7 linked regions of the Homo sapiens genome follow. The protein of the gene in region 6 purifies or fractionates together with the protein of the main gene of each other region. This does not show direct contact. Each region holds a gene or a part of one and is shown on either strand. Other genes may lie near its edges.

What was found.
Region 1: the proteins of SCAP (region 6) and EVA1C purify together in Homo sapiens (co-immunoprecipitation; one large-scale study listed by IntAct). This does not show direct contact.
Region 2: the proteins of SCAP (region 6) and VRK2 purify together in Homo sapiens (affinity purification with mass spectrometry; one large-scale study listed by BioGRID and IntAct). This does not show direct contact.
Region 3: the proteins of SCAP (region 6) and TMEM201 purify together in Homo sapiens (affinity purification with mass spectrometry; one large-scale study listed by BioGRID and IntAct). This does not show direct contact.
Region 4: the proteins of SCAP (region 6) and ST7L purify together in Homo sapiens (affinity purification with mass spectrometry; one large-scale study listed by BioGRID and IntAct). This does not show direct contact.
Region 5: the proteins of SCAP (region 6) and AAAS purify together in Homo sapiens (affinity purification with mass spectrometry; one large-scale study listed by BioGRID and IntAct). This does not show direct contact.
Region 7: the proteins of SCAP (region 6) and CDKAL1 purify together in Homo sapiens (affinity purification with mass spectrometry; one large-scale study listed by BioGRID and IntAct). This does not show direct contact.

What each region holds. Positions count from the first base shown.
Region 1 is NC_000021.9:32,510,206-32,513,705, forward strand, and holds part of EVA1C (protein eva-1 homolog C isoform 1 precursor), read left to right. Parts: intron 1-3,500. UniProt on the Homo sapiens protein: Binds heparin.
Region 2 is NC_000002.12:58,157,589-58,160,371, forward strand, and holds the end of VRK2 (serine/threonine-protein kinase VRK2), read left to right. Parts: intron 1-1,654; exon of another isoform or gene 1,655-1,760; coding exon 1,761-2,105; 3' UTR 2,106-2,176; coding exon of another isoform or gene 2,177-2,212; 3' UTR 2,213-2,283; downstream 2,284-2,783. Other genes in the region: E3 ubiquitin-protein ligase FANCL, read right to left, coding at 2,460-2,591. UniProt on the Homo sapiens protein: Serine/threonine kinase that regulates several signal transduction pathways.
Region 3 is NC_000001.11:9,591,911-9,595,410, forward strand, and holds part of TMEM201 (transmembrane protein 201), read left to right. Parts: intron 1-3,500. UniProt on the Homo sapiens protein: Critical regulator of angiogenesis and endothelial cell (EC) migration. Promotes the migration of endothelial cells, which is essential for angiogenesis.
Region 4 is NC_000001.11:112,581,142-112,584,641, reverse strand, and holds part of ST7L (suppressor of tumorigenicity 7 protein-like), read left to right. Parts: intron 1-515; coding exon 516-670; intron 671-2,169; coding exon 2,170-2,267; intron 2,268-2,535; coding exon 2,536-2,650; intron 2,651-3,500.
Region 5 is NC_000012.12:53,311,611-53,315,110, forward strand, and holds part of AAAS (aladin), read right to left. Parts: coding exon 3,484-3,500; intron 3,240-3,483; coding exon 3,141-3,239; intron 2,832-3,140; coding exon 2,688-2,831; intron 1-2,687. UniProt on the Homo sapiens protein: Plays a role in the normal development of the peripheral and central nervous system.
Region 6 is NC_000003.12:47,420,442-47,423,941, reverse strand, and holds part of SCAP (sterol regulatory element-binding protein cleavage-activating protein), read left to right. Parts: coding exon 1-9; intron 10-1,405; coding exon 1,406-1,500; intron 1,501-2,912; coding exon 2,913-3,011; intron 3,012-3,169; coding exon 3,170-3,388; intron 3,389-3,500. UniProt on the Homo sapiens protein: Escort protein required for cholesterol as well as lipid homeostasis.
Region 7 is NC_000006.12:21,198,957-21,202,456, forward strand, and holds part of CDKAL1 (threonylcarbamoyladenosine tRNA methylthiotransferase), read left to right. Parts: intron 1-134; coding exon of another isoform or gene 135-533; exon of another isoform or gene 534-1,633; intron 1,634-2,153; coding exon 2,154-2,318; intron 2,319-3,500. UniProt on the Homo sapiens protein: Catalyzes the methylthiolation of N6-threonylcarbamoyladenosine (t(6)A), leading to the formation of 2-methylthio-N6-threonylcarbamoyladenosine (ms(2)t(6)A) at position 37 in tRNAs that read codons beginning with adenine.

The sequences.
Region 1 (3,500 bases), on a different chromosome or scaffold from region 6:
CCCTGGCTAATTTTAATTTTTGTATTTTTAGTAGAGATGGGGTTTCATCATGTTGGCCAGGCTGATCTCAAACTCCTGACCTCAAGTGATCCGCCCACCTCAGCCTCCCAAACTGCTGGAATTACAGGTGTGAGCCACCACTCCCGGCCGATTTCCGCCATTACTTTTGCACCAACCTAATAGCTTAGGAGAGGGAAGAGGCCATCTATAAGTTTTAAGTCAGGCAGTGATGTGACCCAATGTGTGTTTCTTAAAGATTATAGAGGCCATGCAGGAAAGATGGTTTATATATGGTCTGTGGTCGCTTTTGCACTACAATAGCAGAGCTGTTATATTTGCAACAGAGACCATATGGCCCATAAACCTGCAATAGTTCCTATCCGGCCATTCACTAGAAAAGGCGGGCAAGAGAGGAGGATGGGGACCAGGTGCCTGCAGGGAAGATGGAGCAGAACAGTGTTTCATCCCTGGTTTTCAGATAATTTCACAAGGTTGAAAGACATCTTAATGAAAGTGAAAGTACAAGGCACTTACCAGGAGATATTCACACCAGATGCCATGGCTCACACCTGTAATCCCAGCACTTGGGGAGGCCAAGGCAGGAGGATCACTTTCAGCCAGGAGTTTAAGACCAGCCCGGGCAACAAAGTCAGACCTCATCTTTACAAAAAAATATAATAAAAAGTTAGCTAGGCATGGTAGTACATGCCTGTAGTCCCAGCTTCTAAGGAGGCTGAGGTGAGAAGATTGTTTGAGCCCAGGAATTCAAGGCTGCAGCAGGCTATGATTGTGCCACTGCACTCCAGCCTGGGTGACAAAGGGAGACTCTCTCTCTCTCCCTCTCTCTCTCTCTATCTATATGTATACACAATATATTTGCTGTCAAAGGATTATCATCAAGAGTCTATAGAAAATATACACATCCTTGGACTAGGCACGGTGGCTCACGCCTGTAATCCCAGCACTTTGGGAAGCTGAGGCGGGCAGATCACCTGAGGTCAGGAGTTCAAGACCAGCCTGGCCAACATGGCAAACCCCGTCTCTACTAAAAATACAAAAATTAGCTGGTGTGATGGCATGCACCTGTAATCCCAGCTACTTGGGAGGCTGAGGCAGGAGAATCACTTGAACCTGGGGTGGGGGGCGGAGGTTGCAGTGAGCCAAGATCATGCCACTTACACTCCAGCCTGGGCAACTGAGCAAAACTCCGTCTCAAAAAAAAAAAAAAAAAAAAAAGAAAGAAAGAAAGAAAAGAAAAAAGAAAATATACACATCCTTTATATGTAACTGGAAAAGCACAGGCAACCCAGAAAAAAAATGGGTACATGACATGAGCCAGCATTTGGAGAAGAGGAAATACATAAGCATGTGAAGACAGGTACAGATCAGGGGAACACAAATCAAGACCATCGTAAGGTACAATTCTATACCCATGTGATTAGAAAATAATGTAAAAGTCTATGTGAGCCAAGTGCTGGAGAAGATGAGGACTGACAGGATTTCTCACACATTGCAGCCACTTTGAACACCGTGTTGGCAGTAGTTCTGAAAATTGAAACTCACGTGCCCTAAGTCCATCAGTTACCTCCTAGGGTAGTACCCAAGAGAAACGCTTGCAGGTGTTGACCAGGGACATTGACAAGAATGCTCACGATCATCCACAAAAGCAGAAACCTGGCAACAGCAGGAGAGCAGGCAAATAAACAGTTCCCGACCCACCAGCAGGAGAGTGGGTGAATAAACTACATTATAGCCAAGACAGTGAAATATTTTACAGCGATATGATATTAAATTAAAAAAAAACACCAAGTCTCCAACACTACCTATAATATTATACCCTTTAAATAAAATTTTAGGAATACATAGAGACGGAAAATAAAACTATATAAAAAAGGAAACAGGGGAGTAAGGAGCTTGGAATTCAGGTGGTAGTCACCTTGAGGGGGAGGCAAGGGGATGGGGAAGCACAGGTTAGACACAGGTGTGGTCAAGGCCTCGCTCCTATACGGGTGTGCATTCATAGCACTGGTGCTAATTACAGTATTAAAAAGTAATTCGTTAGACATAAAGTAGGGCTATGTATTGACCAATGAAGAGAATGTCTCATGTCCTAAGGATTATGGGTAATTTAATTCAGTCCACCAGGAATCCTCAAAATATGAAAAAAGAGGTACAGTAGCAAGTCCATAGTTACCGGCTGTGGCACCCTACTCCCTTCTTGGAACCTGAAACGTCCCCATTCGACTTCCTTCACTTATAGCTCAAGTCGCTGCTGGAATTGACTGCTGGAATTGATTGCTCTGCTGTGACCCTACTCTGTCTGCCCTGGGTACCCGGCCCCTCCCACGACACCACCACTGGGAGAGGAGGGGAGGGGGCCACGGATGACCATTGTACCTCAGAGGCTTGAGCTGGATGGAATTGTTTCTGTCCAGATCTGTCCCTGGCCTGACCATGGGTGGCTGGAAAAGACTATAAATGGATGGGATTCAGCTTCCTCACACTCAGCACTCCTTGAGGTCGGCAGCATCACTGGCAGTGGGGCTCAAAGTTTATATTTTCCAAGACAGAGAAGTTGAGTTGTGGCCCACCTTGAAAGCCCTAACAGCATCACAGAAGGAGAGGGTTTGGAGAGGACAGTGGCTCAAAGATTTCGGGGGAGAGGAGGGCTGCAGGATGGGGAGGAAAGGAGGGAAATTCAAAGGGGAGGAAGATGAAAGTGAAGTCGGGAGAGATGAAGCTTTGATCTGCATATTACTTACAGTATACAGGCTTCCATCTGTATAATACTTACAATAATATAGTAAGTATTATAATACTTACAATAATATAATAAGCATTATAATACTTACAATAATATAGTTGTTATTATTGTAATATAGTTGTTACTATATTATTGTAAGTATTATAATACTTACAATGATATAATATCATTATAGTAGTATTATAATACTTACTATATTATTTTATTTTATTTATTTATTTTTTTGAGATGGAGTCTCACTCTATTGCCCAGGCTGGAGTGCAGTGGCGTGATCTCGGCTCACTGCAAGCTCCACCTCTCGGGTTCACGCCATCCTCCTGCCTCAGCCTCCTGAGTAGCTGCGACTACAGGCGCCCGCCACCACACCCGGCTAGTTTTTTTTTTGTACTTTTGGTACAGACGGGGTTTCACCATGTTAGCCAGGATGGTCTCGATCTCCTGACCTCGTTATCTCCTGCCTCGGCCTCCCAAAGTGCTGGGATTACAGGCGTGAGCCACCGTGCCCGGCCAATACTTATTATATTATTAATATTTATAAATAATATACATATTTATATTATTTATTTTAATATTTTTCTTTTCTTTTTTTTTTTTTTTTTTTGAGGCAGGGTCTCACACTATTACCTAGGTTGGAGTATGGTGATATGATCTTGACCTCCCAGGCTCAAGTGATCCTCCCACCTCAGCTTCCCTAGTAGCTAGGACTACAAGCACGCACCACCATGCCCAGATATAT
Region 2 (2,783 bases), on a different chromosome or scaffold from region 6:
GCAGACCAGCTGTATTGGCATCATCTGGAGCTTCTCAGAAATACAGAATCTCAGGTCATACTCCTAGACCTTTTGAATGAGATCTGCATTTTAACAAGTTATGATGATCTGTTTGCTTTCTAATACTCGAAGAATAATGCCGTAGAGCAGGGGTCAGCAAACCTTTTCTTAAAAGGCCAGAAAGAAAATATTTTCAGTTTACTTTCCATACAGTTTTTGTCAGAACTATTCAACAATGCCATTGTAGTGCAAAAGCCCACATAGACAATACATAAACAAATTGATGTGGCTCTGTTCCAATAAAACTTTATTCACAAAACAGGCAACTAGCCAAGCCAAATTTTGGCAACTCCTGTTATAGACTATCCTAATCAGACCCCCTCAGTGTACTGAAGACAACAGGTGGTTAAATTCTTTGATGAGTGCCTTGCCATATGATGTCATTTGCTGATGTTCAAGAGAGATTAAGTGTATAGATTACACAGTAGATGATTCTGGAAATTATAGTAGCTTGACTTCTATCCTTACCTAAGTGGAGATATCTCCCAGCCTTGCACATGTGAGCTATATGTAAATGCTGCTCTATGATTTGATAGCATAATTATTATTTGTATTATGCTTTATAGGCCTACTGGAATAATTATTCACTTATTTTGACTTTAGTTAATAAAGCTGACAAACTTATGAAAAACTGCATTAATGTGACTTCGTTAGCTCAGAAAGAGTAGTTTAAAATGAGTTATTTAACTCTAAAGTGAGTCATTTAACTCTCAAGTAATTTTTTTTCATAGGAAAGCTAGTAGTTTTTAAAACATCCTTTGTTTTATGTAGGACTCCTTTCTGACACTTCCAAAACTCTGTATCTAGAAAGGGGAGGGCTGTTTGTTTGAAGGGTGGCAGTTTAAAGGTTGAGAAGGTAGTAGCTATTCTGAGAATGATGGACAGTGAACAAGCTTAAAGTATTTTGCTTTGTTTTATAAATTTCTTCTCTTCTAAGTTAGTTACTTGATAAATGGTGCTGAGGGGGCATGCCAGATGTCACCAAAGCAAAGCAGAAAAACTCGACTTTCAGCCAGTTAAGTGGTGATCAGGAAACTGATTCCTGGGACTTTGGCCAACAGGAATGATGAAAACATAGAAGTAGCTCCCGAAACTTGCATAAGTAACCAGTTAATTTGTTTTATATTAATACCACTTAATTTGCTTTATATTAATATCTATTCGGTCTATACTGGTTCGTCTGTATAGCTTTCCAAGAGACATAACACTATAGCTACCCCTGAGGCAGTTTTCTTTGGCTGTGTACAGCCTCATCCTTTGCCCACTGTACAGTGGACACTTCTCAGTTGCCATGGAATCAGAAGGTAAAGAAAGAATCACATTAATGACCAAAATATTTCTAATTATGGCTATCTTACCCCCTTAAGATTAAGCCCAATTTTTTGGTTTTGCCAAGAAAATTCAGTTTTCATATTCTATCCTATTTATTTTTAGATTATAAATTACTTAAGAGATGGCCTACTGACGTGGTTTAAAAGAACCACTCAAATTATATCCAGATTTGCTTGTTGGATGTTTATAAACTCTTAAAAAGTGTAAATCTTTAAGATCTTTACCTAAAAATTACTTCTCAGGAAAAATAACACGCAAAAACTTGATCTTGTATAACATTTTATTTAGCATTCTTACACACTACACAAAATAAATACTTGGATAACTCACGTCTAACAAACTAAACTATATATGTATTTTTTCCATAGGAAAGCACAAGGAGAAGACAGAAATATCAAGAGTCTCAAGAACCTTTGAATGAAGTAAACAGTTTCCCACAAAAAATCAGCTATACACAATTCCCAAACTCATTTTATGAGCCTCATCAAGATTTTACCAGTCCAGATATATTCAAGAAGTCAAGATCTCCATCTTGGTATAAATACACTTCCACAGTCAGCACGGGGATCACAGACTTAGAAAGTTCAACTGGACTTTGGCCTACAATTTCCCAGTTTACTCTTAGTGAAGAGACAAACGCAGATGTTTATTATTATCGCATCATCATACCTGTCCTTTTGATGTTAGTATTTCTTGCTTTATTTTTTCTCTGAAGATGATACCAAAATTCCTTTTGATAATTTTTTAAGTTTCCAGCTCTTCACCGAAATGTTGTATTCTTATTTCAGTGTTTCCTTCCAGACATTTTTAAGGTAATTGGCTTTAAAAAGAGAACATATTTTAACAAAGTTTGTGGACACTCTAAAAAATAAAATTGCTTTGTACTAGAAATAGTGTCATAGAATAGTGTCATAGTACAGTTTGGAAAACACTTCTGAAGTTTCAGATCACCTAGGAAATCTAGAAAAGGAGTTTAATGTTTTTGATCAGAGAATTTGAAAAATAGAAATACAGAGAATGAGTTTCAAAAGTTTTAGATAAACTGATATACTATATAGATCTATCTTCTAGAACATATTACTGAAAGCTAGGCACATTTTATGAGATGTGATTAACAATTTGCTTACCTTACTACAATATGGACATTCACCAAATATGATGTTAAAACTCTGTCTACTAGTTAGTAGTCCTCTCAGCCACTGCAAATTTTAAAAGATAAAGGAGAAGCGTCAGCATGATTACAAATTACAGATACTCCAAATGTCATTCCCTTTGTTTTTAAGTGCATTATGTTTTTATTCCAGAAGACTTAGCTTAATTTTGTTTTGCAAGAGTAAGGGATGTATTTCCTGAGCCAATAGCAGACTATTAAGATGTTGAGTAACAAGGGA
Region 3 (3,500 bases), on a different chromosome or scaffold from region 6:
CCGCTTATTGGCCTCTGTCCTGTGGTATCTGTCACCAGCTGCCCTGGGAGGTCGTCGTTCTTGTCTTGCTCACGTTTGCATCTCTGCCAGCCTAGGGTGGTGCTTGCTTAACTGATGGGATGTTCCGCTCGCACCAGGAGCGACCCTAGAATGGTGGATTGGGGCGTTTTCCATCCTGATGTTGGAGTTGCTGCTGTGGATTCAAGTATGTTTTGCTTGGAGATGGGCTGGAGGCCCTGGCAGTGCTAAGTTCTGAGTTGCATTTTGATGCTTCTGTCGCTGAAGCCCAGGAGGCCTCTTCTCTGGTCCTTCTGGTTGAATGAAACACGGTGTTGCCCACTTAAGCGGGAAGTGCAGGTGAGGAGCTGCTTGGGAGGCTGGCCTCTGGCTCCCTGGCCCCTGAGGGAACCTGACTCTTACAGTCTTTCCAACCCCGCACTGGGGCCAGCACACAGTGTCCCAGGTCCTGAGCAATGTGCTAAGGCCCCTGTCTGAGGAGGTGATGATTTCCCAGGGCTGGGCAGAGACTCTGGGAGCTGGCCAGCCTGCTACAACCACTGAGCTCCCCAGGGCAGGGACCAAGCCCCATCCAGTGCCCCCTCTAGCAGGTTCCCCCTACCTGGTGCTTTCCTAGGCTGAGGACCCAGCGCTGGGCTCGCACCTAGAACAGAGCCCCTCCCACCTGCAGGGAATAGTGAGGCATCCCGCAGGAGCTTTGTTTCAATACATGTCCGTGCTCAGGGCTCTGGAGTGGTGTCATCATTAAGGACACGTGCCCGTCTTGTTTTCCCTCAGTGTGTATGTTGGGCTTGTGGACGGGGCAGGTACAGAGCATGCAGCTGCCCTAGCTTTTTCTTAGGGACCCATCTCCCTCCGGGCTTCCTCAGGCTTCCCAGGGGCTCGGCATCGAGCTAGCAGGAGCCGAGATAGTGGCCTCCAGGCCCTCGTGTCCACCCATCAAATGGGACCCATAGGGCCAGCTGCTGTCCCCCCAGAGCTGGAACCGTTGTGGGCAGGGGCAGCCCCTCCAGGCCCGAGCTCCTCTCTTGCTTGTGTTGCAGGGACATTCTGTCACGTTACCTCAAACCTTGCCCACCAACTGTGGTTTGTCCCAGAGTCAAGTTAAGGACGGAGGTTGTTGGCTTGCAGAAGAGAAGTGGGCTGAGGGGTTTATCAGGGAAACTTGGGGGCTTCTCCCAGAGCAAAAACAGGGTCCAGCCTAGGCTGGCTCAGAAGAGATTGACCCAGATGCTGCCTCAACAGGCCGGGCAGAGGCAAGCATAGGCTAGGGGCCAGGACTTCCCCCACCTGCGTGGGGACCTCGTCCGAGCTGTGGACAGTGTTTCACATGTGGTCATGTGTCTGACGCCGCCGTGCTGGTGCCTGGGGGACCTGCAATTCATGCCCAGCTCCCCATCGACCCCTGGCCTACCTGCCTCTTGGGACCTTTCAGGGCTCACCCCCAAAGGCACTGTGGGAGAGGACCCCCTGGCAGGTAGGGCCCGCCTGGCCAAAGTGGGTGGCAGCTGCTCTGGCCACCAGAGAGCCCACCCCCAACTCTAGCAGGGATTACCCAGGGCTGAGAGTGACAGGAGTTAGAGCTGCTGGCCCCAGGGACAAGGGCTAATCCCTTGCCTCCCCCCTCTTCCGGGCCGCCTCATTCTAGATCAGTGGAGCCATTTCCCTAGCAACAGAGCAGGAGATTCAGAATGGAAACATGACTTCCTGGGGTGGGCGGGGCTTCATGGCAGGCACCCTGGACAGAAGCCACAGCCCCTGCTCAGCTGTCATTGGTCCCCTAGGCAGGCTCAAGGGTTGACCTTCCTTTTCAAACAGGGTAAGAGAGCTGAGGGGCCTTCCGTGGGGATAGGAAGCCTGTCACCCAAAGTCAGTTGGGTGCAGAGCCTTGTCCGGCTCAGGGGTGGGGGGTCACACAAGCAGGTCTTCACCCATCAGGACACGCCCCCATGCACAGTTACAAAGAAGCCTGTACAACAGCTAGTAATTAGCACAGGGAAGTCCACGTGCTTAGTTGCCCGGGAGTGCTAGATGCGGGCACCGCAGCAGAGCAGGTCTCCACATGCCCCAGAGCGAGTCTCCTTCCCTGGCTGTTCATGTAGTCGGCGCCCGGTGGCGCTGTCCTAATGCCGAGCACTGAGCGCCTCCCTGCATTCTCCTGTAGGATCCTCACAGTGGCCTCTCCTGGGGCAGGGATGCTCAGCAGCCCCTTTTGACAGGTGAGGGATGAGACTGCGGCCCTAGAAGGCAGAGCTGCTCTCCAAGGCCATGCCTGTTGCCATACTGCCTGCCCAGCTGGCTGGCTCCGTTTCGTCGCTGGTCTGCAGGCCTTGCCCGCTGTCTCCATGCTGTTGACAAGATGCAGCGGTCCTTGTCCTCTGTGAGGGCTTGGGCCTGTGCTGGGGCAGGGGGTGTGGGGTGAGAAGGGTGTGGGCCGAGGCTGCTGGGGGAGATCCCAGCTGCCCCTGTGGGCCCTGGGCCTTCCCCGCAGGGCCTGGTCCCATCTCCCCTTCTCTCCCAAGCCTCCCCCCACTCCATGTAACTTGGCTTTTTTGCGTACATACTCTAGGCCAGTCACTGTTAAGTGCGTCCCACGAGCAGTCCCTTGTGAGGGAGGTGCTTTTGTCCCCAGCTGACAGGTGATCACACATCTCCCTTCATATGCCCCTGGTCAGGAGAAGGGGGTGGAGGGGAGGGCCGGGCAGCAGCAGTAGTGTCAGAAGCGGGAGCCCTGCTTCCCAGGGCCCAGCCTCCCCCTCAGGCCCCTGGCCAGCCCGATGGGTTAGCGACAGAGCTGGCTCTTTGCAGAGCACAGCACCTTTCTGTCTTGTGTCACTGCGTCCTTGCAGCATGCAGAAGCCGGGGGTGCTGTGGTTGCCCCCACTTCACAGATGTGGACACTGAGGCTGAGAGTACAGGAACTTCCTGGGGCTCCGTCCTCCTTTCTCTGAGCAGCGCCTCAGGATGAAAGGCCAGAGGGCCGTGCTCTCTGGTCCTGTGGACGGGGGGCCGTCTGTGCAGGGAGTGGCTGCCCACTCTGGCAGGGGCTCAAGCGGTGTCCTCGAGCTGGAGGTGGCCCCTGGGGGAGAGGTGGAGAGTCGGAGCAGCAAAGCCGGGGCCCCAGGGCTCCCACAGCTGCTGCCTGTCACCCACATTGTTCCTGGATTTCCGGAACTGGGGGGCTTTTTTGGGCAGTGGCGGTCTCTCTGCCCACCCCTCCCCAGTCCCCCAGTGTCCCACAACCAATGAGGTGGGTAGAGGGGGGCCCAGAGCATAGATCCCCCAGTGTCTGGGCTGGGATTATCCCGAGGCCCCACCTGTCACCACACGTGTAGCCAGCGAGGGCCACTGTCCTCTCCACCAGAGAGGGTTGGCCCCAGGCTGGGCAGCTGTCACTTGCTCCCTCCCCTCAGCCTCCTTGGCTCTCACATCCTGGGACTGTCTCTCTCTGGAGCACAGGAGGCCCCTTTCAATCTGGAGGC
Region 4 (3,500 bases), on a different chromosome or scaffold from region 6:
GTGCTGCATGCCTGTAATCCCAGCTACTCGGGAGGCTGAGGCAGGAGAATTGCTTGAACCCAGGAGGCCCAGGTTTCAGTGAGCCAAGATTGGGCCATTGCACTCCAGCCTGGGTGACAAAAGCAAAATTCCATCTCAAAAAAAAAAGCAGGTATGACCAGTAGAGGGTATACAATTCAGATAATTCTTTATAAATCTTCTTTTCTCCCCCCTTTCACAAAAAGAAAACACAGGACAATGGGTCAGAGAATGAGATAGAAGTTTAAAAATTTTGTTTTTTTTTTTTAAAAAACAAAGAGAAGGGAAAGATAAGAAAGTGGAAGAATTGTGGAATCAGACATAAAGAATATACCAATGTGCCCCTATTAAGGTAAAATATTGAACGAAGGTTTTTTTTTTTCTAAAGATGGAAAAAGTGTAGGTAAGGAAATATGACATAGAGCAAAGGGACATAACCAAGAGAAAACACTTGCTTTACCATTTTATTTAAAATTGCCTTCTTGCTTTCTTCATAGCTGTGCCACTGCATATGTTCTACTGGCTGAGGAAGAAGCAACAACTATTGTAGATGCTGAAAGGTTATTTAAACAGGCACTCAAGGCAGGAGAAACAATTTATAGGCAGTCACAGCAGTGCCAGCACCAAAGTCCTCAGCATGAAGCTCAACTGAGTAAGCAAGTTTGAACTGGTTATTACTGTCTTTTAGCATCTGTAATTTGCTTGTGTCTTAACACAAACAACAATAATAAAAAACTTAATACTTACAGGTTAGTTAATTTTCACTGGAAATAACTAATCTATTCACAATACCTACAAGCCAGCAAGACAGAAATGTGTATTAGCCAGAGAATGCTTGTGGAAGGGAATAGATCTGCTCAGGTTATTGAGAGAAGATGTGCTGCTCTGAGACTTAACAGTAATTTATTTCATGTGAGAATTGGGCTGGTCATTGTAAAAACATAACTCAAAAACTTTCAGCATTCAGGAGAGCCTTCTAGTGATGATAAGCAGCTGTTATCTTTATCCTCACCCTTACTCTAAGCAACAGTAGAGGTACATTATTTGGTTGGTTCTTCAGACTGTGTATCTGCATATAGTGCTAGGGAGTGGCCCCTTTCACACCATCTGATTCTTAGCCCAAAATCCAACCTCATACTTGGCATTGATTCTTTCTTTGGTTGATTTTTCTCCATGATGTGCTTGAGATCAGATGAGCCATAGCAACAGAAGTCCTTTCTGTTCTTAGATATGCTCTACCAGTTATGATTGAGATTTTTTTTTACCAAAGATGTTAGAATCAGCAATGATGCTGCTTCCTGCTATTTTTATGGCCAGAGGGTTTTAGTTTCATGATTTTGGCAAATAGTGGGTAATAAATTGAAATATGTTTATATAATGCATTATCTACTGGCAGCTAAGTTCTAAATCTTTTTTTATGTGTAAATTAAAATTTGGATAATGTTTTTCTCCCTAAGCTAAATACAGATATATATGGTATGTTTCATTAATGCACAGTTTTTATAACACAAATCTGTGGGAATATATAATTTTGTAGCCTGGAACTAATGAAACTACATCTTTAAAAATGTCATGCCATTTGTCTTTGAATAATCTCAAATACGGTTATGAGCTAGTTACAGAAATATTTGTTAGCTCTTTCTAGAAGTAGTTTTATAGTTTGTCAACTACTCACTGTTAAGAAAAGTTTACATTAGCCATGGAAATTTTGTTTTGGACATTTTTTGTTTTTCATTTAAAACAATAGAGAGTATCAGAATAGTAGATCATTTATGCACAAACTTAAATACTAGGTTAATGTTATATCTTACTATAATGTATGTATTTCTTTTTTGCTAATGGTAAAATAAACTTGTCAATCATACACGAATTATATATACTGTACTTAAGTTACTATTAGAGGCAAAAATAATTAAATGTGTATTTTAAGTTTTAATACAGAAAACTTGAAACATGCGCAAAAATAGAGAACACTCCTGTTCAATATTTATCATCCAAATGTAGACATCATTAATATTCTTCCATTCTGACACAATTTAATTTTAATTGACTCTTCCAAGGGAAGCAAATAAAATTAATGGATATGTTAATGAAATAGCAGCCCACAATACAAAAGTGATAGTTGTATCATTTTTTTGTTTTTCTAAATAGGGAGAGATACCAATGTACTGGTATATATTAAAAGAAGATTGGCAATGTGTGCAAGAAAATTAGGAAGAATAAGAGAAGCAGTAAAAATAATGAGAGATGTAAGTAAATTGATGATGGGACTATTACATTTATTCCTCCAGAAACTAAAAATTTAGTTAAGTTGCCAGTTATTTTAATGCAGAATCATTGTATTTTAATTGGTAGTTTTTAGAACAAGGTATTTATTTAATATACGTACCTTTCTTAAGGGTTAGGTCTTCTTCACAGCTATGGTAAGAAACAAGAATTTCTACTTAATGAATCTGGCTCAGCTCTATTGAGTTCCTTTGTTATGATTTTAATCTTTCTTTTCCTTTTAATATACAGTTGATGAAAGAATTTCCTCCTCTTACCATGTTGAACATCCATGAAAATCTCTTAGAATCACTTTTAGAATTACAGGCCTATCCAGATGTTCAGGCAGTCCTAGCAAAATATGATGGTGAGTCATATTCCCTTAGTTGATAGCATGGTTATTCTTTTCCAATTATGTAATTATAAATGTGGTTATATTCTAGTATTTAATTTTCTCTTTCTGTTCTTACCAGTCAGTATTTAGCACTCAGAGGTTGCTATTTAGTATCTTCTTTATCAGGACTTTCATTAGCAAAAGTCTGCAAGGAAGAACTTTTCTTCTGTCAAGATTTACTTGTTTGTTTATTGAGTGCTTGTTTCTAATATGAGTGAGTCATTCAGAATATGACAGTGAACAAGACAACATGGGAGGCTGGGCATGGTGGCTCACACCTGTAATCCCAGCATTTTGTTTTGGAGACTGAGGTGGGAGGATCACTTGAGCCCAGGAGTTGGAGACCAGCATGGGCAACATGGCAAGACCCTGTCTCTACAAAAAAATTTTTTAAAAAAATTAGCTGGGTTTGGTGGTGTGTACCTGTAGTCCCAGCTACTTGGGAGGCTAAGGTGGGAGGATCACTTGAACCTGGGAGGTTCAGGCTGTAGTGAGCTGTGACTGCACCACTGTAGTCCAGCCTAGGCGACAGAGGGAGACCCTGTCTCAAAAAAAAAAAAAAAAAAGACGGGGAGCCCTCATAGGATTTACAGTTTATTTACAGTTTAGTGGAGCATACAGACAAATGAGCAGCAGTTACATTGAAGACAGCATGTTTGGGAGATAATTGGAGAAGTATGGGTGCTGTGCACATAGTAGGGGTACCTTATTTGTTTTGGAGTGTCAAGCAAGCCTAACAGAGAAGTTGCTTAGCAGTATATACTATAAGAGCAATTCAGAATAACATTTTTACAATGCTTTTTAGTTACAAAGTTCAATGATA
Region 5 (3,500 bases), on a different chromosome or scaffold from region 6:
TCTCTAAAAAAACCAAAAAACAGGCCAGTTGCAGCGGCTCATGCCTGTAATCTCAGCACTTCGGGAGGCCGAGGCAGGCGGATCACCTGAGGTCAAGAGTTTGAGACCAGCCTGGCCAATATGGTGAAACCCCTGTCTCTACTAAAAATAAAAAATTAGCCGGTGTGGTGGCACGCACCTGTAGTCCCAGCTACTTGGGAGGCTGAGGCAGGAGAATCGCTTGAACCCAGGAGGCAGAGGTTGTTGCAGTGAGCTGAGATGGCGCCACTGCACTCCAGCCTGGGCGACAGAGTGAGATTCCATCCCCCCCCAAAAAAAATCTGTGATCACGTGTTTTTTTCTTATAGTACCTATTGTCAAGGTTTAGGTATCAGGGTTACATTAGCTTTATAAAAATAAATCAGGAAGATCCTGCAACAAAAAAAAGGGAGGACAGGCCGGGCATGGTGGCTCACGCCTGTAATCCCAGCACTCTGGGATGCTGAGGCGGGCGGATCACGAAGTCAAGAGGAGAATCACTTGAACCCGGGAGGCAGAGGTTGCAGTGAGCCGAGATTGCACCACTGCACTCCATCCAGCCTGGGCAACAAAAGTGGAACTCCATCTCAAAAAAAAAAAATCTCATTATTTTCTTCTACAATCCACTTTGGTAACTTATATTTTGCTAGAAAATCAAACATTTCCACAGGGCACGGTGGCTCACTTCTATAATCCCAGCACTTTGGGAAGCCAAGGCGGGCGGATCACAAGGTCAGGAGTTCAAGACCAGCCTGGCCAATATGGTGAAACCCTATCTCTACTAAAAATACAAAAATTAGCTAGTGCGTGCCTGTAGTCCCAGCTACTTGGGAGGCTGAGGCAGAAGAATCACTTGAACCCGGGAGGCTGAGGTTGCAGTGAGTCGAGATCGTGCCACTGCACTCCAGCCTGGGCAACAGGAGTGAAACTCCTTCTCAAAAAAAAAAAAGAAATCAAACATTTCCTTCAGATTTTCAAATCTGTTGGCCTAAACAAGTCCACAATATTCTTTTATAATTCTTCTATTTTCTCCCGTATCTATATCTTTCCACTTCTGAAAATAGTATACTTTGGTTTTCTTTTTCTCCTTAATTAGGCTAACCAAGAGGTTTTCTTCTTTATTCATATATATACGTATATACACGTATACATACACGTATATATATATATACGTGTATATATATGTGTATATATATAAAACATATATGTGTGTGTGTGTGTATATATATATATATTTTTTTTTTTTGAGACAGAGTCTTGCTTTGTTGCCCAGGCTGGAGTACAGTGGCGTGATCTCAGTTCACTGCAACCTCCGCCTCCCAGGTTCAAGTGACTCTCCTGCCTCAGCCTGCCAAGTAGCTGAGACTACAGGCGAGCACCACCACGCCCAGCTGATTTTTTGTATTTTTAGTAAAGATGGGGTTTCACCGTGTTAGCCAGGATGGTCTCTATCTCCTGACCTCATGATCCACCCGCCTCAGCCTCCCAAAGTGCTGGGATTACAGGCGTGAGCCACCGCGCCTGGCCTTTTTTTTTTTTTTTTTTTTGAGACAGGGTCTCACTCTGTTGCCCAGACCAGAGTACAGCTGTAGTGGCATGATGTCAACTCACTGCAACCTCCGCTTCCCGGGTTCAAGTGATTCTTGTGTCTCAGCCTCCCAAGTAGCTGGGATCACAGGCACGCACCACCACGTCCAGCTAATTTTTTTGTATTTTTAGTAGAGATGGGGTTTCGCCATGTTGGCCAGGCTGGTTTCGAACTCCTGGCCTCAAGAAATCCACCCACCTTGGTCTCCCAAAGTGCTGAGATTACAGGCATGAGCCACTGCGCCTGGCCTAATTTTTGTATTTTTAGCAGAGACGGGTTTTACCATGTTGGCCAGGCTGGTCTCAAACTCCTGACCTCAGGTGATCCTCACGCCTTGGCCTCCCAAAATGCTGGGATTACAGGTGTGAGCCACTGTTCCCAGCCTTTATTCATAATTTTTTTTTTTTTTTGAGACAGAGTCTCGCTCTGTTGCCCAGGCTGGAGTACAGTGGCATGATCTTGGCTCACTGCAACCTCCGCCTCCCAGATTCAAGCGATTCTCCTGCCTCAGCTTCCCGAGTAGCTGGGACTACAGGTGTGTACCACCATGCCCAGCTAATTTTCATATTTTTAGTAGAGACAAGGTTTTGCTATGTTGGCCAGGCTGGTCTCGAACTCCTGACCTCAGGTGATCCAACCGCCTCCACATCCCAAAGTGTTGGAATTACAGGCATGAGCCACCGCACCCAGCTTAGTCATAATTTAAAGAACCAGTTTCTGGTTTTATTTTTAGTTAGTTTTCACAGGTATTCTTTTTCTAATTTTATTAGTTTCTGATCTTATTAGTACTAATTTTCTTTACACTTCCTTTAAGTGTAAAGGAAGTGTATAGTCCTCTGAAAGAGTCTTTCCACCCCGTAACCCACAGACACATTGTCCCCACAATCCAAAAAGCCCCTAGTTCTCTTTCTCCAGATTAGAGTATTCTCAGCAACCCACCTTGATCTTACTTCTGCTTTTCCCATAGCCCTGGGAAGTGCTGTGAGGACAAAGAACTTCTCCTTTCAGACGTCCTCACCACCCACCATGCCTAGCATTGCACAACTCTCAGGCCAAGGTAAGGCAGGCTACTAGGACTTACCGGGTAGACAAGGAGGTAGGGTCCAGGGTCCAGATAAGAATGCAGCTCTGGCAGGCCACAGCCAAGACAGAGGCACTAAGGGGCTTCCAGGCCAGAGACGCCACATTTCGCTGCAGCCGGTGCTTCAGGGAGGGGACTATGGTGCTAGGGTGAAGGGGCAGGAAACTGAGTCAAGGCAGGAACACTAAGGCTCCAGGGACCAGAGTGCAGTTAAGGAGGGAAAGCCACAGAGAAGAAGGATGATCCATCCAGGGGCCAGGGGCACCATAGGACAGGAGGGGATAAAGGTTAGGTCTAGAAGAAGCACGCATCCAGTTATGGAGCTTCCCTGACCCCAGTTCTGGAAGGAGCCCCATGAATCAGGTTCAAGAACTACAGGACTCCCCGGAACCAAGGCTGGCAAGGGAAGGTGATATTGACAAGTCAGAGCCCACCTGGTGTCCCCACACACACCTGCTGGCATTATACACACGGACTGAGTCATCTAGCAGGGCCACTGCAAACTTGTTGGTGTGGGGGTGCCATGCAAAGACACGCAAGCAGCAGCTGGACCTAAGGAAGGGGTTAACATGAAGAGTTCCTGCACCTATCCCTACCCTAGCCCAGAAGCTCACATTCATTTCCAGTAAGGACATGGTTTTTTCCTACTTTTTCTTGTATTCTTTTTTGGGGGAACAGGAGGAATGAGAATATGGTGAGCAATCAGAAAAGGAGTAGGAGTCTTTGCCTTCTCCCCAAAGGGAGTTTTGAGGTTCAGGACTTCCTTTCCACAAAGCTCCAGGGCTTGTGCACTCACCAATTTGTGACTTGGGC
Region 6 (3,500 bases):
TCGCCCAAGGTAACGCAGTGGGAGAGTTGGGCAGAGGGCTGCAGGAGGGGCTGGAATGGGGCCTGTTCCTCTTGCTGTTAACGCTCTGTGAGCAAACAGAGCCCTTGAAATGTCCCTTGCTCTTGCCTCCGGCATAATATGCAGTGGGCCACTGGGCCCTGGCAGCTCTTGAGTGTGTGCCCTGGGGAGCCATGGGGCCATTGGACTGTACTTCGTCCTGGTTCATGTGTCAGTAAGAAAGTAAACCAGGCTGGGTGCCATGGCTCACACCTGTAATCCCAGCACTTTGGGAGGCTGAGGCAGGTGGATCACTTGAGCCCAGGAGTTCAAGACCAGCCTGGGCAACATGGTGAAACCCCATGTCTACAAAAGATAGAAAAATTAGCAGGGCATATTGGCATGCACCTGTGGTCCCACCTACTCAAGAGGCTGAGGTGGGAGGATTGCTTGAGCCTGGGAGGTCAAAGCTGCAGTGAGCCGTGATCACACCACTGCACTTCAGTGTGGGTGGGGCTTGTGTTTGGTGGTGGCTTTCTGTCTGGGGAGTTTAGCGCCTAGTATTTTCTCTTACTGCCTCACTCCAGCACACTAGGCCCAAGCCCCGGGGGCTGGCCATTTCAGAGACGCTGCCTTCACGGCTGCCAGAAAAGCTCCCTCTGGCCCTGCTGGTAGAAACTGGGGATCTGGGGTTCTAGGGAAAATGAGAAAAGGGAGAGCCTGGCCTTGGAGGCCTGGTCACTTGAGCCTCTTCTTCCTCGTCACCCCATGTCTGTGAGGAATGGGGCTGTAGGCAGCCGTCCATTCATCCAGACCTCTGTGAGCCTCTGTGATAAGCCAGGCCCTGTGCTGGATATGGAGTTAGGAAGAGATGGGGCGAAATTGTCCTTACCCAGTAAGAGCACAGAGCCTTAGACATGCGACAGTGTGATAGCGTGGGATCAGGGCTCACTACAGGAAGGGGCTTGAGGAAGAACGCAGCCAGGTCCTCTACCCGCCGAGTGCTTCTGCCATGTGGTTGATGGGCACACTGTCATGCTGGCCCGTGCAGACCAGACAAGAACCACATGCGGAGGTTGGATGTGGTTGTTGTGGGTGGCACTTGGCTTTCCTTGTGGATTTTCTCATCTCCACACTCTGCTTCTTCCCTCTTTTGATGATTATAGCTCTCCTCTGCACCCTCCAGGCTGTGAACACCCGTTCCCCGTAGCAGCTGTGTGGTGGTGATGGCCCCTTAAAGTCTGGGCATTAGCAGGACCCTGAGGGTTGGGGTGCTTTGGTGGAATGGCTCCTTCAAAGGGCTGGGGGGCCTTGCCATGCCTCTGCCACTCCGAGGCCCATGAGGTTGTGTGAGTCATGTCGCAGAGTGGCCATGTGTTGCCCTGTGCCCTGTTGCTGCCCTCTGCAGGCCTAAGCAGCGAGAGCTGGTCCATCATGAAGAACATGGCCACGGAGCTGGGCATCATCCTCATCGGCTACTTCACCCTAGTGCCCGCCATCCAGGTAAGGCCCCAAGGCCTGCCACCTGGATGAGCATGGAAGCAACTGCTGTGCTCCCCAGCTGTGCAGCCATGGGCAGGGTGCTCCCCTCTTCAGCACAGGCATCCTTGCTTCTGAGGTGGGACCTCTTTGCCTGGCAAGCAGATCACTACAGCACCCAGATGGCCCCTGGCATGCCTGGCTCAGAAGTGCTCAGCAAACCCTGGCTGGGTTCCCAGATTGAGCACCTAGCCAGGCAGACTCTGCCCTTGACCCTGTCTTCCTACCCCTCCCTGCCTGCTTCCCTTTCAGCCAAGTGGCAGGAGGAGGCTGCAAGGGCATGGCAGGAGCTGGGGACTGGCTGTGCAGTTTGTCACACCTGTTTCCCATTTTTGAGGGAGAAGCACCGTGGGGTTCCTAGACCCTTCCTCCGGTCTCCTCCCTTGGCCCTGGCCTGTGCCGCAGTCGCCAGACGCATGGCCTTGCCTGGCCTGACCAGTGGGAGGGCCACCACCCATTGCCCAGAGTGACCCTGCTCTTGGCAAAGTGCCCTCACTCAGCTGTGGGCTGTGAGCAGAGGTGGAGGTGGCCCTGCACTGAGCTGGAACCCCAGACTGATGCCAGCCATTCCAGAAGGAGTTGCAGGAAGGGGAGGATGCCATCTTTTCTCGCCCGTCTTTCCCCCAGGGCTGGCAGGCCAGCTGAGGGATGGGGGTGAGCAGAGAACAGATGGGCTGTGGGCTGCTTCTCCTGGAAAAACAGTAGTATCTGCAGGATAGGGTACAGTCTTGGGACGTTAGAGCTGAGACAACCACTGTGCCACTATCTGCACTCCATGGTCTTACCCCAGATCGGAGTAGCACTGTGGTGATGTGCTAGAGGTCTCAACACCGACATCTCAGAAAATTTTGTCTGCTGACAGAGCTTGGGGAGCAGAGAGCTCACCCTTTTTCAGTTTTAGAGAATTAATCCCTCTCTCTCTCTCTTCATTGTTCCGGGGCAGTTGCTGGCTGGGAACCTTTCTGAGAGCCCCTGAATCAGGCCTGGGCTCTAGCTGGGTTGGTGATGCATGAGCAGGGCGGGGGCTCAGTGGGGAAGGACTTTTTGGGGAGCAGGCTGGTGGGGCTTAGAGGTTTCCGGGTTGGATCAGGCCTTCAGTCCCCTCTAGAGGGACCGGAAGATTCAGGGAAGGTACTTCCCCTTCCCTTTCAGCCCTTTCTGAAGAAAGTGTGAGGGTTTCTTCTGCCCCCTGGTGGAGACGGGGTGAGCTGCTGCTGGTATGTGAGCTGAGGACCAACCAGCATCTCTCATCTCTGCTGTGCCCTGCCTGCTGCTGCCCTGCCGGTTATGAGGTGGCTGCAGTCCGGGTACTGCTCCTCTTGGGCTGGGACAGTGAGGTCACGGCACCCCCCCATCCCCATGTGCTCTGATTCCAGGAGTTCTGTCTCTTTGCTGTCGTGGGGCTGGTGTCTGACTTCTTCCTTCAGATGCTGTTTTTCACCACTGTCCTGTCCATTGACATTCGCCGGATGGAGGTAGGAGTGGGCTGAGCCCTGCCCTGCCCGCCTCCTCAGCCCTGGCTGTACTGAGGGAGTCCTGGGTGAGAAGGGTGTAGACCTCGGGCAGGACAGCGGTCCTGTGCGAGCAGCCTCTGGATGGTGGACTCAGGCCCTGACCACTGTGCCCCCAACAGCTAGCAGACCTGAACAAGCGACTGCCCCCTGAGGCCTGCCTGCCCTCAGCCAAGCCAGTGGGACAGCCAACGCGCTACGAGCGGCAGCTGGCTGTGAGGCCGTCCACACCCCACACCATCACGTTGCAGCCGTCTTCCTTCCGAAACCTGCGGCTCCCCAAGAGGCTGCGTGTTGTCTACTTCCTGGCCCGCACCCGCCTGGCACAGCGCCTCATCATGGTACCTGCCACCCCTGCCCTGCCCTGCCCTCTTCTGGAGGGCCGGTGCTCCAGGCCCCTTGTGGTGCTGCACTTGGCCTTAGAGTGGCAAAGGGTATTCCTCAGGCCCTGGT
Region 7 (3,500 bases), on a different chromosome or scaffold from region 6:
TGGTAGCCTGTGTCTCCCATCTCATGATAGCCTGTGTGGGAGACTGTCATGGGCGTACGGAGATTTTCACTGATCATTCTGGATTGTATTAAAATCAAATGGAGCTTCCTACTTTTTTGCTTCTTTCTTATCAGATAAGAGGTGAAAATGTTTGCTATGGATCATGGCTGGAATTAGAGCTTGAGAAGATGCTGAAGGCCAAGGTGGACAAGTCGGATGAGGGATGGGCAGAGGAAGCAGGCTGCCTGTGTCAGAAGGCAGGAAAGCAGGAGCTGAAGAGGCCCCCAGCATTGACATTCCCCAGGGAATCATCTCAGACTGGGCAGTGCGTCCCCAGGAAACAGGGGAGCTTTTCAAAGCCCAGACTAAACGTGCTCTGTTCAGTACCGGTGGAGACTGCAGTTGAGGAAGGGCTCCCAGCACTCCATGTCTGGCCTGCATCGCTTCCCCATTTCCCCATCTCATTAATATACCCCAGAGGGCCATTTTCCTATTCAGGCCAACCTTCTGCTCAGCCCTGGGGAGGAGCTTGATTGCATTTTGGTTGCCTCTTCTCTCTCCTTTCTCTTGCCATCTGGGTTTTGCCTCAGCAGGGAACTTTTTTCCCTTCATTTTAAAGGCAGTGGCATGCCTCGTTAGCTGCTTCCTCCAATTTAAAGCAGTCGGGCTTTTTCCAATTATTAAAACTGGAGGAGGGGAAAACACTGAGCCCTTCATTCAGATCAAGGCAGCAGATCAAGGAGGGTTATTTTTCCCCAGAATAGTACCAAATCTCCCAGGGTTAGTTTGGTCTAGAGATTTTCTTATTTTATAAAAACTGATTTAAATGGGCTTTTTATATCCTAACACTAAAGCTCTTTTAGTTCTTTTTGCCTGCCCTAAGTAATTCACCACCCAGGTGACCTTTTTCTTCTACTTTGATGAAGCAGTGTACTCAGTGGTCATAAAAATCAAACTCAGACCAAGATTCAATTTTGCCTTTCAGAGAGATTGGCTGTGGAACTCCTGGCTCTCATCTGACTTTTCTGTCTCTATAACTAAGCATATCAAAGATTTTCTAGGAATTATTTTTCTAAATAAGATGAGTTCCAGAGATGAAGATTGTATCTAGATATCCAAGTATTACTGGATTAGAACTGGTCTATTTATTTTGGATTCTAACTTGAAAAGACTGGCAAGTCGCTGCAGTGCTAAAATAGAAGTGTAAGGGAGACATCACACACACAAGCTACCTGTGGGTCCCAAAGGAAGGGAAACGTTTGCTTGAAGTAAACAAGTACTTTTATCAGGAATCTCTAGTGGAAAGAGACCACCTGACAGTTTCCTGTGAACAAGCCAAAGTACCCTTCAGAGGACTGGTTCTAGATGGAGGTAGATTCCCAGGACTGACAAACACATGCCTTTTCTAACAGAGCAAGGGAAATGAACGGCAGCTGTTAGTTTCAGGAGTCATTTAGCTCCAAACAGCAGTGTACAGTGTTATTGGAAGGTTCTTTTAAATGTACCTCCTTCTCCCTCAAAACACAGCACACACATGCACGGACACAAACACGCAGGCCTGTTTGAAGTGTCTTTTCAAACCATTACTCTGACAGCTCACTTGGAAAGTATTAAAAGTATAAGGCTTTCATCAGTATTGTCTCGGTTTTCCTCATTGCATGGAATAGCCAAAAGCAAGATATCAAAGGCCTGTCCAGAAGTGGCTGGCTGATTGCTGGGGGATTTCCCAGGTCTGCCTTCCACGTGCCTCAGGACATCAGGCACATCCTGCACTGGAAAAGCACTGCCCAGGGGCCCAGGAGCCCCTCCCAGGAGTGCCTTTCCTTCCTGCAGGCTCTGCAGACCCTTGAGCAGCTAGAAGATAGAGTCCACTTTGTAGGGGATCCCAGAACAGAAAAATGACATTGAGGGACAATGAGGAAACCTGGATAATTAGGTATGCCTTCGGTTAATAATATTAATATATCAATTTGGGTTCATTAATTGTGGCAAAAGTGCTATACTAATGTAAGACGGTAAATAATAAGAAAACTGGGAGTTAGGTATACAGGAGCTCTCCATACTATCTTTGCAATAATTCTATAAATCTGAAACTGTTCTAAAGTAAAATGTTTATTTTTAAAAATTAAGCCTCTGAAACAAATGTGTTTAAGGTTTTAGTGCCAAAGAACCCTGCGTTCATGGGGAAGATGGTTGAAGTGGACATCTATGAATCAGGCAAACATTTTATGAAAGGGCAGCCAGTATCTGATGCCAAAGTGTACACGCCCTCCATCAGCAAACCGCTAGCAAAGGGAGAAGTCTCGGGTTTGACAAAGGTAAGTAAAAGATGCTCTCCTCTCTACCCTGCTAGTAAAACAGCAGCTGTGGAAGCACAGTGATTCCAGGCCATGTTTCTGTTATCATTTATAGTTCCCTTTTTATGTATGCATGAGGCTTTAATCCTTTCTGACAGATTGAAATCTGAATTAGAAAGATGTGTTTTTGCTGATGCCGATAGCTTTGCTTCTCTGGCTGTAAAGAGAATAAGCTCTTTCTGCTTCCAGTTTAGAAGCAGGGGGTAAAAGCCATTATTTGCAGGTGAAAATGTTGACACCAAAAGATGATCTGATCCAGTATGTTTCTATGTCAGTAGATCCTGAGTGGAAGGGGATGAAGAAAGGGGTGTTTTCTTGCTTTACAAAGCTGTTTATACTGTAGTAAAAACCTACAGCTGAACAGGCACTAAACCATATCATATATGCAGTTATGGTGCCTTTCAGAAGGGTGTTAGCTGGATATCTACTTTAGTCATGTGGAGTGAAAATTAAACATTTTTTTCTTTCTATAAAAAAGTAACCTGACCCCTATTTTATACCTTGGTAAATATGGCCGTTTGCCAAGCTCTCTCACATTTCATTGAGCTACAGTTGTAAAAGCTGATGGAGTGTGAAATGAAAATGTGTATCACATTTCTAAGCATCATTTGATGTCCTTTCTCCAACACAATTGTTAAGCGCTTAAAAAAAAAAAGCATATAACAGTGATTTAACATATGGAAAAAAATAACTGATATTTATCTGGCCATGTAATTCCGAAATTGTTTTAATCTGTGCATAATCTTGTTCCTCAAAATAAATTGCAAGGACATGTTCGTTAAAATAAAGGGAATACCGCTTCACTCTGGCAATAGTACCGCTTCACTCTGGCAATAGCAACAAAGACAATACTATTGTCTGTGTTCTCACTGACTGTGGCACTGGATTCTTGTGTCCGACAGCAGTGATAATTCACATGTGCTTCACAAGTGCCCATGAAGGATCTGCGTGCATGGCCGTCTAACCCGTACTGGAATGGTATAGACCAGCTTTTGTTAAAATCCTACCAAATGCATCAGCCTGCATGATCAGGAGATAACTCTAAAACTTGATAAACATAACCATTCATTTTTGCTGTTTATTAAAAAAAAAAAAATTGTACTTGGGGGATAGTATGGGTGGCCAGGAAGGAGCAGTGTAACC